3 linked regions of the Homo sapiens genome follow. The protein of the gene in region 2 interacts with the protein of the main gene of each other region in a pairwise test. Each region holds a gene or a part of one and is shown on either strand. Other genes may lie near its edges.

Evidence for each region.
Region 1: the proteins of HDX (region 2) and LMO1 interact in binary tests that used the Homo sapiens proteins (3 or more experiments, as listed by UniProt).
Region 3: the proteins of HDX (region 2) and CCDC57 interact in binary tests that used the Homo sapiens proteins (3 or more experiments, as listed by UniProt).

The regions. Positions count from the first base shown.
Region 1 is NC_000011.10:8,253,797-8,257,450, forward strand, and holds part of LMO1 (rhombotin-1), read right to left. Parts: intron 1-3,654. UniProt on the Homo sapiens protein: May be involved in gene regulation within neural lineage cells potentially by direct DNA binding or by binding to other transcription factors.
Region 2 is NC_000023.11:84,467,899-84,471,552, reverse strand, and holds part of HDX (highly divergent homeobox), read left to right. Parts: intron 1-1,977; coding exon 1,978-3,081; intron 3,082-3,654.
Region 3 is NC_000017.11:82,171,317-82,174,970, forward strand, and holds part of CCDC57 (coiled-coil domain-containing protein 57), read right to left. Parts: intron 1,545-3,654; coding exon 1,322-1,544; intron 538-1,321; coding exon 385-537; intron 1-384. UniProt on the Homo sapiens protein: Pleiotropic regulator of centriole duplication, mitosis, and ciliogenesis. Critical interface between centrosome and microtubule-mediated cellular processes. Centriole duplication protein required for recruitment of CEP63, CEP152, and PLK4 to the centrosome.

The sequences.
Region 1 (3,654 bases), on a different chromosome or scaffold from region 2:
CACGAATTTTTCCCCGCCGAGACTCAGAGAAGAGGGGCAGCCACTCCCGCCACACAATATTAAAATGTCAGGAGTTTAAGGCCTGCGTTGGTTGAGTCATAAGTTATCAGCACCCAGTGAGGGCCGACAGAATGCCTCCCCTAAATTATTAAGCAGAATGCGTCAGACTGTAATATTTTGCTAAACCAAAGTACAGACACAGACAAAGATGTCATTTCAATATTTGAAACCAGCAAGTTTAATTTAAAATAAGAGCAAACCAATAAGCTCAGAACATAGCGGCGTATGAGAGGAAAATTATACTGTGAGAGGAAAAAAAAGTGGAAGGACTTAAGAAATTTATAAAAGTAATCTCCAAGTGGAAATTAGAAATCAAGGCCTAGAAACAGAATAACACAAAAGAAATATTACTGTCCACTTTCTAAATCAATATAACACTGCTCCACGCCGGAATTACCATGGTAACTCAAGTAAAAAGAATCAAGCAATTCTTATTATTTCAAAATAAAATCACAGCCTGAAGCCTGGGTTTTATTACAACCACTGATAGATCGCTGGCTTGTATTTATCTGAAATATTGCTTTTCAATCAGCTGGTTTATGAATGTACACAGGCCTCTCACCAGCCCACTTACCACCCCATTTTGAGGCTAGGGGCCAACCAATGAATTGATTCTCACCTGGCTGCATCTGCATATATGCTCAGGTCTAAGTCAGCTCAGGGAACACAGAACATCACATCCTTTCAAGCCGTCTAGTGGCTTTGCAGGACAGAGAGGAAAACCTGAAAGAGGCAACGGGGACTGACCTGATTATGGTCCCTCCCCACCGAGGCTGGCCCTGGGAGGAATGGAGCTGGGCTCCCATGGCAGCCCCACTCAAACTGCCCACAGCAACCTTCCTCCCTCCCCAAGTCATCTTCTCACAGGTTCGTCACCCTTCCTTGAACTCTGAGTGTCTTTCTCTCCATCCCCACGTCTGACAGCTGGAAAAGGGAGCAGACAGAGCAGAGAGAGTGAGCGCACTGACTCTGCAGTCAGCCTGCTTGGGTTCACAGCCCAGCCCTGGCATTCTTGAGCTGTGGGAGCTGGAACCAATTACTCAATCTCTTTGTACAATAATTTTCTCATCTGTAAAATGAGGGTAATAGTAGCTTCTTCCTAAGGTTCTTATGGGTATTAAATGAGATTATACATGGAAGATGCTTGGTGGACTGATTACAAAAATGGCCCCAATTCTCTACCCTTCCCCACAGCCACACCATTTGTTATATGACTTTTCACCTCCTACCTTCAAGAGCAGAATCTGCTTCTCCACCCTTTGAACTTGGGCTGGCCTTGTGATTTATTTTGGCCGATAGAATGCAGCAGAAGCGACAAGATCCCAGTGCCAAACCTTGGCCTCAAGAAGCCTTGTGTAGGCTGGGTGTGGTGGTGCGCAGTGGCACAAGCTTGTAATCCCAGCACTTTGGGAGGCTGAGGCAGGTGGATCGCTTGACCCCAGGAGTTCAAGACCAGTCTGGGCAACGTAATGAAATCTCATCTCTACAAAAAATACGAAAATTAGCTAGGCATGGTGATATGGACCTATAGTCTCAGCTTGGGAGACTGAAGAGGGAGGATCACTTGAGCCCAAGAGGTCAAGGCTGCAGGAAGCTGTGATTGTGCCACTGCACTCCAGCCTGGGCAACAGAGTGAGATGTCTCAAAAAAGAGAAGGCTTTTGTGCTTCCACACCTTCCGGACCGGTCTCTGCCATAAGAACAAGTCGGACAAGCCTTCTGGCTAATGAGGGCCATGCAGTCTTGTCACGCCCAGCATCCAACTGATCAGCCATCCTCCATCCTCCAGATGTGAGTGAGCCCAGCTGAGACCAGAAAAACTGCTCAGCCAAGCCCTGCTTAAATCACTGACCCACAGATTTTTGAGTTAAATAAATGCTTATTGTGTTAAGGCTCTACATTTTAGGGTAACTGATTACACAGCAATAACTAATTGATACATACAGATAGCACAATGCCGCACTTTTTTTTTTTTTTTTTTTTTTTTTGAGACGGAGTCTCGCTCTGTCGCCCAGGCTGGAGTGCAGTGGCGGGATCTCGGCTCACTGCAAGCTCCACCTCCTGGGTTCACGCCATTCTCCTGCCTCAGCCTCCTGAGTAGCTGGGACTACAGGCGCCCGCCACCACGCCCGGCTAATTTTTTGTATTTTTGGTAGAGACGGGGTTTCACCGTGTTAGCCAGGATGGTCTCAATCTCCTGACCTCGTGATCCTCCCGCCTCGGCCTCCCAAAGTGCTGGGATTATAGGCGTGAGCCACCGCGCCCGGCCAATGCTGCACTTTTAAGTACGGGTTCAGTATAATGATAGCTATAGTGTTTTATGACTCCTAAAGACTGAGAGGCCAAAGCCAAAAGATGATACTGTAACTGTACAGAGAGCAATGTCAATTCATACAAGCATGAAACTTTCTGGTTTATCAAGTGTGTGCTTGGACATAAAGTGCCAGTTAGGTGTTTCACCCTTTGTAGGGATGAGAAAACTGAGGCCCAGTGCGCTGAAGTCACACAGCAGTCAGCTGGGACAAAACCCAGGTTTTCTGAATCATGCTAGCGGACTACACCTGTAGACAGGAGGCCACTCAAGAAAGCCCAGTTGACCTCCAGGGGAAGGGACAGGAGGGAGGAGCTAGTGACCTGAGCCCATGGGCCTTCACACTGGGCAGCTGCCTCTGCGACCTGGACCAATCTGCTCACTCCTCTCACACCACCTGCTTTTAATTTGCCCCCAGTTGTATCAGCTACTGTGAACTCCTGCCTTGGACAGAACACAAAACGAACACACTCCCACCAGTAGCGAACAAGCTTGTTGCTAGGTTTGGTGGATGTGTCTCTGAGCATGGCCTGGAATGGCCTGGGAGAAGCCTCAGCCAACTAAAGGAGAAAGGGCATGCCAGGCAAGGAGGACATAGGAACAAGGGAATAGAGGCAAATGCTGAGTCTTCATGGAACCCAAAACCAGAGCAGACATACTAAACCTGCATAGTTTAGTGTGATGGTCAAAGCAGCAGTAGGCCTCAGGCAGGATGCCAGGGTAGCAGAGGTTGGGTCAGACTGGTTGTAATGAGCACCACAAGAAAGATAGCAGGTGAGATGAGAATGGTGGTAGCAGAGGAGAAAAGGGTAGGTCCAGAGTCCCAGATGAATGCAATCCAGTGGTGTGCTGATGCATGCTTAACGACCAAGTCTTTGGGAAAATGCCCTGATTTGTAGTGTTTGCCAACATCCATGGTACAAATACTCCCATTGTGGCTGACTTCAAGCTACCAATGCAGTGTCTCTGAACTCAGAGTTGGGAACAGATGTACAGAATCTCTTGCAAGCCAGGACAAGTTGACTCCACTGGTGTAGTCCAATCCCAAATATGGGCCTGCTGGGAAAACTCACTCTAGCAGCACCACAAAGAGCTAAGCCTGGAAATGGGAGGACACCTTGCATGTCTCAGTGTCCTCCAACTCCAGACAGGACAGGCAAGCAAGATGGGACACATGCCATAGGAACCTCTGGGGCTTCTCCACTTCCAAAGGCCCAGGACAGGTGAGTGTCCCTCAGCACCTTTCACCTTACATCTGAGGATAGAACTGCATCTTCTGGGCTG
Region 2 (3,654 bases):
CACTTGCCCCCAGAATACCCTTCCACAAGCTATTTATTATTTCTGAACCTCAGTTTCTTCATTTACACAATTAGAAAAATAACACCTACCAAAGGAGTTTATATATATATATATAATATATAAAATAATAATACTCTATATCGATAGATCTATTATAGATCCTTTATTATAGATCCTTTATAGATTTATTAGAGATCCTTTATACTTTAGTTTTTTTATTTTTTTCTTTTACCTGTATGTACACCTTGGTTCCAAGACAAATGAAAATCTATCTATCTATCTATCTATCTATCTATCTATCTATCTATTGAGAGAACACATAATGGGGATTCAATACATATTAGCTTTTATTTACAGTAGTACAGCAACACTAATGTATATAATTATAAATTGTATAAGATGTACAGTAAACATTGAAAATTGGACAATTTATGTGGTCTTCAAAAACACATTCATACAAAAGTTAAACAAATATACTCTGAACTATTGTTTGTTCAAGGCTAGTTCATTTAATGTTTTCATTTTTCATTTATTTTAATTCGTTTTTTAGGAAAATATTTGGTGGAGACTGAGTCCCACTATATTGCCCATGCTGGTCTCAAAATGTTGGCCTCAAGCGATCCTCCTGCCTTGGCTTCCCAAAGAGCTGGAGTTACAGGCATGAGCCACTGTGCATGGCCTGTTTAATTCTTAATAGATTAATGTGCTTTGGTGTTTATAATATGGTATGCATTTTGGAATTATTATAAAGTTTAGTAATCACATTATAGAATATATTTCTTATTGTATAATTTAAGAAGATCCATGACTCAGAAAAATAATACTAAGATAATTATAATAAATTACTTACATTAAAATATGTATTTTGTAATTAAATCCTAAACACCAACCACTAGTATTATTTTTATTAATAATCTTAATCTGTTTACAAAATATATATTTATTGTATAAAATTTGGTAAGTTGAGAAAAATGTAAAGAAGACAATAACTACCATAGATTAGTGACAAACTGAAAACAAACAATTGCAGCTTGTAACAAAGAATTATTATTGACTTTAGTAGAAAATTACTCTTGCATACAAATCAATTTAAAAAGGTAAACACCTCAATATAAAAATAGGTAAAGGTAATGGATAGGCAATTCTATGAAAGTAATATTGTAACCATAGAAATTCATGTCAAAGCAGCAATTATACACTTTTTATTAACTCCTGGACTAGTAAAGACTACAAAAAGATAAGGCAAACTCTTGGTGAGGGTGTGAGGAAACCGGAACTCATACATTGGAGAGCACTTTGAAAATATTAGAGCCTAGCAATTTTTCTTTTAGTATTGCATTCTAATAGAGCAGCAGTACAAAGATGCATCTACGATGAGGTATATGGCAATATAACTTATAAGAAAGAATATTTCAAAAAATACTATAAATAATCTGATAGTATGAAATTAAGCAAGTTATGATATATTTATAAAATGGAAGTTGATGAGTCTAAAGATTGCAAATGTGTATTTGTTTAACAATACTATGAGCATTTCTTAATGCCATTAAATAGCCTACCTTTAGTATGTTTTTAATTTTTCAGTATTATAAATAAATATATGATGAACATCATTGCATATAAACTTTATCTACATTTGTAGGTTACTTTTAGGATAAATTACCACAAATGTATTTACTATGTCAAAGTGTATAAACATTTTTAGGTTTCTTGATACATATTAGTTGGATGGGTTATGAGGAGAGAAACAATAATACACTCTGTTTTCAAAGTTTGAAGGTATTTATTAAGTGTGAGTCCCTGATCATCTTTTGCCTTTGTACTTTAGTCAGTTTTTCTGTTATTTTACCTTTTTCTTTTACCTTTATGTACACCTTGGTTCCAAGACAAATGAAAATATAATGTACCACGTAAAATTTGTTTTTTCTTCGTTTGTTTTTAATTTTTTTTTCATAATACCATGTTTTATCCTTCCAGACGTGGGTTGGCAATAAGAGAAGAAAGATGAGTAGTAAGAACTCTGAATCTGGAACAGCAACAACAGGAACCTCTTTGTCAGCTCCAGACATCACAGTCAGAAATGTGGTTAATATTGCTCGACCCTCAAGCCAGCAGTCTTCTTGGACATCTGCCAATAATGATGTCATTGTAACTGGTATATACAGTCCAGCCAGTTCATCAAGTAGGCAAGGAACAAACAAACATACAGACACACAAATTACAGAAGCACATAAAATCCCTATTCAGAAAACAGCCACTAAAAATGATACTGAGTTTCAGTTACACATTCCTGTCCAAAGACAAGTAGCACACTGTAAAAATGCTTCCCTACTCCTAGGTGAAAAAACAATTATTTTGTCAAGACAGACAAGTGTGCTAAATGCTGGAAACTCAGTATTCAATCACGCAAAGAAAAACTATGGAAACTCTTCAGTACAAGCTTCTGAAATGACAGTACCTCAAAAGCCTTCTGTGTGCCACCGACCTTGTAAAATTGAACCAGTTGGGATTCAAAGGTCATATAAGCCTGAACACACAGGCCCAGCATTACATAACTTATGTGGGCAAAAGCCAACTATTAGAGACCCTTACTGTAGAACACAAAACTTGGAAATCCGTGAAGTGTTTTCATTGGCAGTTAGCGATTACCCCCAGAGAATTCTGGGAGGAAATGCCCCACAGAAGCCTAGCTCAGCAGAAGGAAATTGTTTGTCCATTGCAATGGAGACTGGAGATGCTGAGGATGAATATGCCAGAGAGGAAGAGCTGGCATCGATGAGAGCACAGATACCAAGCTATTCGAGATTTTATGAAAGTGGCAGTTCCCTTCGAGCTGAGAACCAAAGTACAACCTTGCCCGGACCAGGAAGAAATATGCCAAATTCACAAATGGTGAATATTAGAGATATGTCAGACAATGTACTGTATCAAAACAGAAACTACCATTTGACACCACGGACCTCATTACATACAGCATCTAGTACAATGTACAGTAATACCAATCCATTACGGAGTAATTTTTCTCCTCATTTTGCATCATCAAACCAATTGAGATTATCACAAAACCAAAACAATTACCAGGTAATGTGTAAATTTATTTTATAAAGGTTTTAAAAACTGTGTGTGTATCCAGTTAGATTTGGGACCTGGATCACTTAACTCATATATTGAAGTAATGTGAGATTTTTGCTTCAAAGTGGTGGTTTGGGGTTAACTCCTTGAAGAATCTTGTTCTTTGTTTCTCATGTTTTTAAATGATGAGGTCTTTTTTTCATGGAATATAGTCATTTTTATAACATGGCAGTCTTTCCCTGCATTTAAAATGATTTTGTTCTGGAAATGAGAGCTTAATGGGTAGCATGGAATTTCCCATTACTAAAATAGGGTTAAATTGGTCGGGCTCATGATCTTGAACATAGATTATTCCTATAATGGTTTTCAGTTGCATTTTGGGGAGCTGTCACTAGATGAGTGGTGGCTTCCCTGGTACATAACCAGGCAAGTCAATAATTTCTTTAGGTGCTGATGGCTGATAAGTCAGAGGCTATGGTAACTCAGCCAACTGCTTTTTAGAAATGTAAATGCTTTATTAAAACATTAAGTGAGAGAGTAGTCAAATAGTCATTTAAAAATGTTTATAGGGAAAAGACATAT
Region 3 (3,654 bases), on a different chromosome or scaffold from region 2:
GAGGTAGCTCCAGGAATTCCATTCACACCAAAACAGGGAGGGCTGACTGCAGTGAGGAGCCAGGGCACGTGGGCTCTGGAGGGAGCACAAGGAATTCCATTCACACCAAAACAGGGAACGCTGACTGCAGTGAGGAGCCAGGGCACGTGGGCTCCGGAGGGAGCACAAGGAATTCCATTCACACCAAAACAGGGAACGCTGACTGCAGTGAGGAGCCAGGGCACGTGGGCTCTGGAGGGAGCACAAGGGGCTGCTGGGCTGGATGACGCCGCCCCAACGTCTGCAGTAGCCTTGAGCTGTATATTTGCTATGAGCGGACTTTTGCAGGGGTCAGATTTCAGTTTATAAGGGGACAGCAAGTACCCCACTGAGACGCGGACTTACCAGTCGTCTCTGTCGAGGTGCGGACGCTGGGCTGAGACTCAGCATGAGGTGAGGACATCTTTAAAGGATCCAACACATCTTCTAGATGCTTTTCCAGAGTTTTAAACTTATGCTTTAGAGTTCGTATTTCTGCTTCAAGGGCCAGAACATAATCTGCCAAAAAAACCTCCAGTGAATATAACACATACACAGCATCCTTTCGCACCTCCCTCCTGTGAGCACCAGCTCAGGGAGCCGATGCCAGCTCATGCCCGCCAGCTTCACTGTCCCTGTCCTCCTCACACTACAGCTTCACCGTAGTTTCCACACTCTCTGTGTGTGTCAGACTGAAAGACCTTCCCTCCCCTCACTGGCCAGAGTGTGCCAGCCAGAGACCAGCACAGTCTCCATGCTCTCCAGGAAGGGCTCAGTGATCAGGAGCAAATGCTCCACCTGCCGCCAGCCCACGTGCCTCTGTGCAGAGGGGCCAAGTCCCATCTCGAGAACGGAAGCTCTGCCTCCATCCCGGCATCTGCCCACCCACAGCCACTCATGGGGTCCCTGGGGGTCGGGAGGCCCTCATCAGCTCTGCCACAGACGCTCCTCTGGAGGAAAGGACTGAGGTCCACCAGCCCCTGCTACCAACCCATTCTGGGACAGCGCGACAGCAAGCCAGCCCTGGTCCAGGTCTAAAACAGGTTTTTAAGTGTGTCAAGCAGGTACCCTCATTTTTTCCTTCCACTTTACAAATATAAAAGCTTTTTGGTATAAAACTTAAGATCCCTTCTCTTGGAGAAAAAGCAGTTTTCATACTTTGAGTTTATTACAGGGGATGTTAACTTATAGGACTCTGAAATGAAGCCTCCTTGAAGCCAGTCAAGACCCATGCTCCCGTCTGTCCTCCTCCCTCCCTCTCCCCCTTCCTCTCCCGCTCTGTCCGTTTCTCCCACTTACTCACCAGGAGTGGCGGCATCTCCCCCAGCCTCTGGGTCAGGCTGGTTTGCATCTGTGCTCTCTGCCGCTGTCTGGATGGGAGGAGGAATCTGATGGCTTAGAGCCTCCATTTCTTTCCTCATCTGGGCAATCGCGTTTCGCAAGCTCGTGTTCTGCTCTCGGAGCCGCTGGATCTCACTGGATGGAAAGTCTTTACTTATTTCTTCTTCATGCTGCCTGAGAAGCATCTGTCAAATACAAGGAAAAATGGCTACAAAAAGATGAATGGTTCCCCAGCTTGTCCTGACAGGCTGTGCCTCCGCTCTCCCCGCGCCCCTCTCGGGCCGGTCCCCCGCTTCAGCTTGGGCTGTGGTCCCTCCCCATCCCCAGGCTGTGATGCCCCTCCTTTCTGACAGAAGTGCAAATATGACACTCAAATTCCTGGAGCCTTTCATACTTTTGAGATCCCTAGAGTGTCCAATCCACAGAGGCAGAAAGTGGAATGGGGGTGCTGGGGCTGTGGGCGGGGAGGGGGAGCCAGTGTTTCTTGGGGACAGAGCTTCAGTATGGAAAGATGAGAATGTTCTGGAGAGGGTGGTGTGATGGCTGCACCTCCGTGTGAATGCGCTTCATGCTGCTGAACTGTGTGCACCAAAAAATAGTTAAAGCAGCCAGTTTTGCGTTATGTATACTTTAGTACAATCAAACATCCACTAAATAGGATGAAGAGCAGGTTCAGAGCGCGCAGAAGAAAAGGCAGTGAATATAAACACCTGGCAACAGAAAATACCCAAACTGAAGCTCAGAAGGAAAGGTGCCAAAGAAGAAAAAATGAGCAGAGCTCTGGAGACCATGAACAAGGTGCACAAGGAACCAGGAGCCCAGATGAACGCAAAGACAGGAGACGCGTCTACAACAAGGCCAGACATGTTACAAATGTGCTGAAAGCCACACATCACAGATGACGAAGCAAATGAGCTGAAAGCCGACATCACAGATGACGAAGCTCAGTGAACCCTAAGCAGGATAAACAGAAAGAAAATCATACCAAACAGCACATAATCAAGCTGCTGAAAAATCAGCAACAAAATGGAAACTCTAAAAGCAACCCGAGAAAAGAGACATGTTACCCTAGGGTCAAAGGGCAGGCATAGGGATGACAGACCCCGCAAGGAGCCACCAAGGCGGGAGGACAACGAGGTGAGGTGGCTCCGGTGCAGGAGGAGAGACAGGCCCCGCCCACCCAGTTCCTAGGGAGAGGGAGTGTCCTTCTCTAACCAAAGGTGAGGGGCGCTTCTGCCTCTGACCAGGAGGGACTCACTGCCATGAGTCTTTCCCTGCGGCTGTGAACAACTAGAACACCAGACACATTAGAGGAAACACCTGCTTCCAGACGCCAGCATAGACCCCAGATACGGGAGAGGGAAACAAAGTCCCAGGGTCTGGCCCAACTCAACCTTGAGTCCAGCCAAGATGTGTGCAAAAGGCACAGCTTCCTCTCCTGTGGAGCCACCCTGAGGGACGCAGAGCCTGCTCCCTACTCTGCACTCCATGAACACAAACCTGAAGCAAGATCTGGGCCCTTCCCAGGACGCTCTGACTGCCCGCTGGCTCCTCCGTGCTCCCTGGCAAGGCCAGCTGGCCTGGGCTCCCAGGAGGAGAGCTTCACACGCTGCGCTCAGGGGTGGAGAGGATGCGAACAGAACCTGCACCTCAACTGGCAGTTTAGAAACGGAGACAGTGCGATGCCTAACCCTGTTTTTACTCTAACTCGCTACTTTAAATTTTGCCCTGTTTGTCTCTTTAATCACCTAGCCTTGTTTCTCATGTAAATAAGACTCTCTCTAGCTGGGAAAGCCGGACAAACTCCAACTGACCCCTTAATTTACAAGACACTAAGGGCTCCTTACCCAACCCCCTTCCGCAAGGAGTTGACCTGTGTAAGCAGATCCTCAGCATTTCAAAGGAGCCCAATTAACTGATAAGGTACTGGCACCAACAACGTCTGAAGTTCCCAGGATTCTTCTCAAAGAGATAACAACATAAAGCCTTGAGTTCGTGTCCGGCATAGCATCTATGTCTAACTATAATGAAGGATTTAGAGCCCTGCACCTGGTACCGTTGCTTTTTGTAACCATTTGTCTTTTAAATTGTTTATCGCTCTGTAACCATTTGCTTCTTTTGATTCTTGCATGTTTTTACTTCTGTAGAATTATTGCCTTTGAGTTCCCCTCCCCTTCCTAAACCAAGGTATACAAGTTAATCAAGCCCCTTCCTCAGGGCCGAGAGAATTTTGAGCGTTAGCCGTCTCTTTGGCTGCCGGCTTAAATAAAGGACTCAATTCGTTTCAGAGTGTGG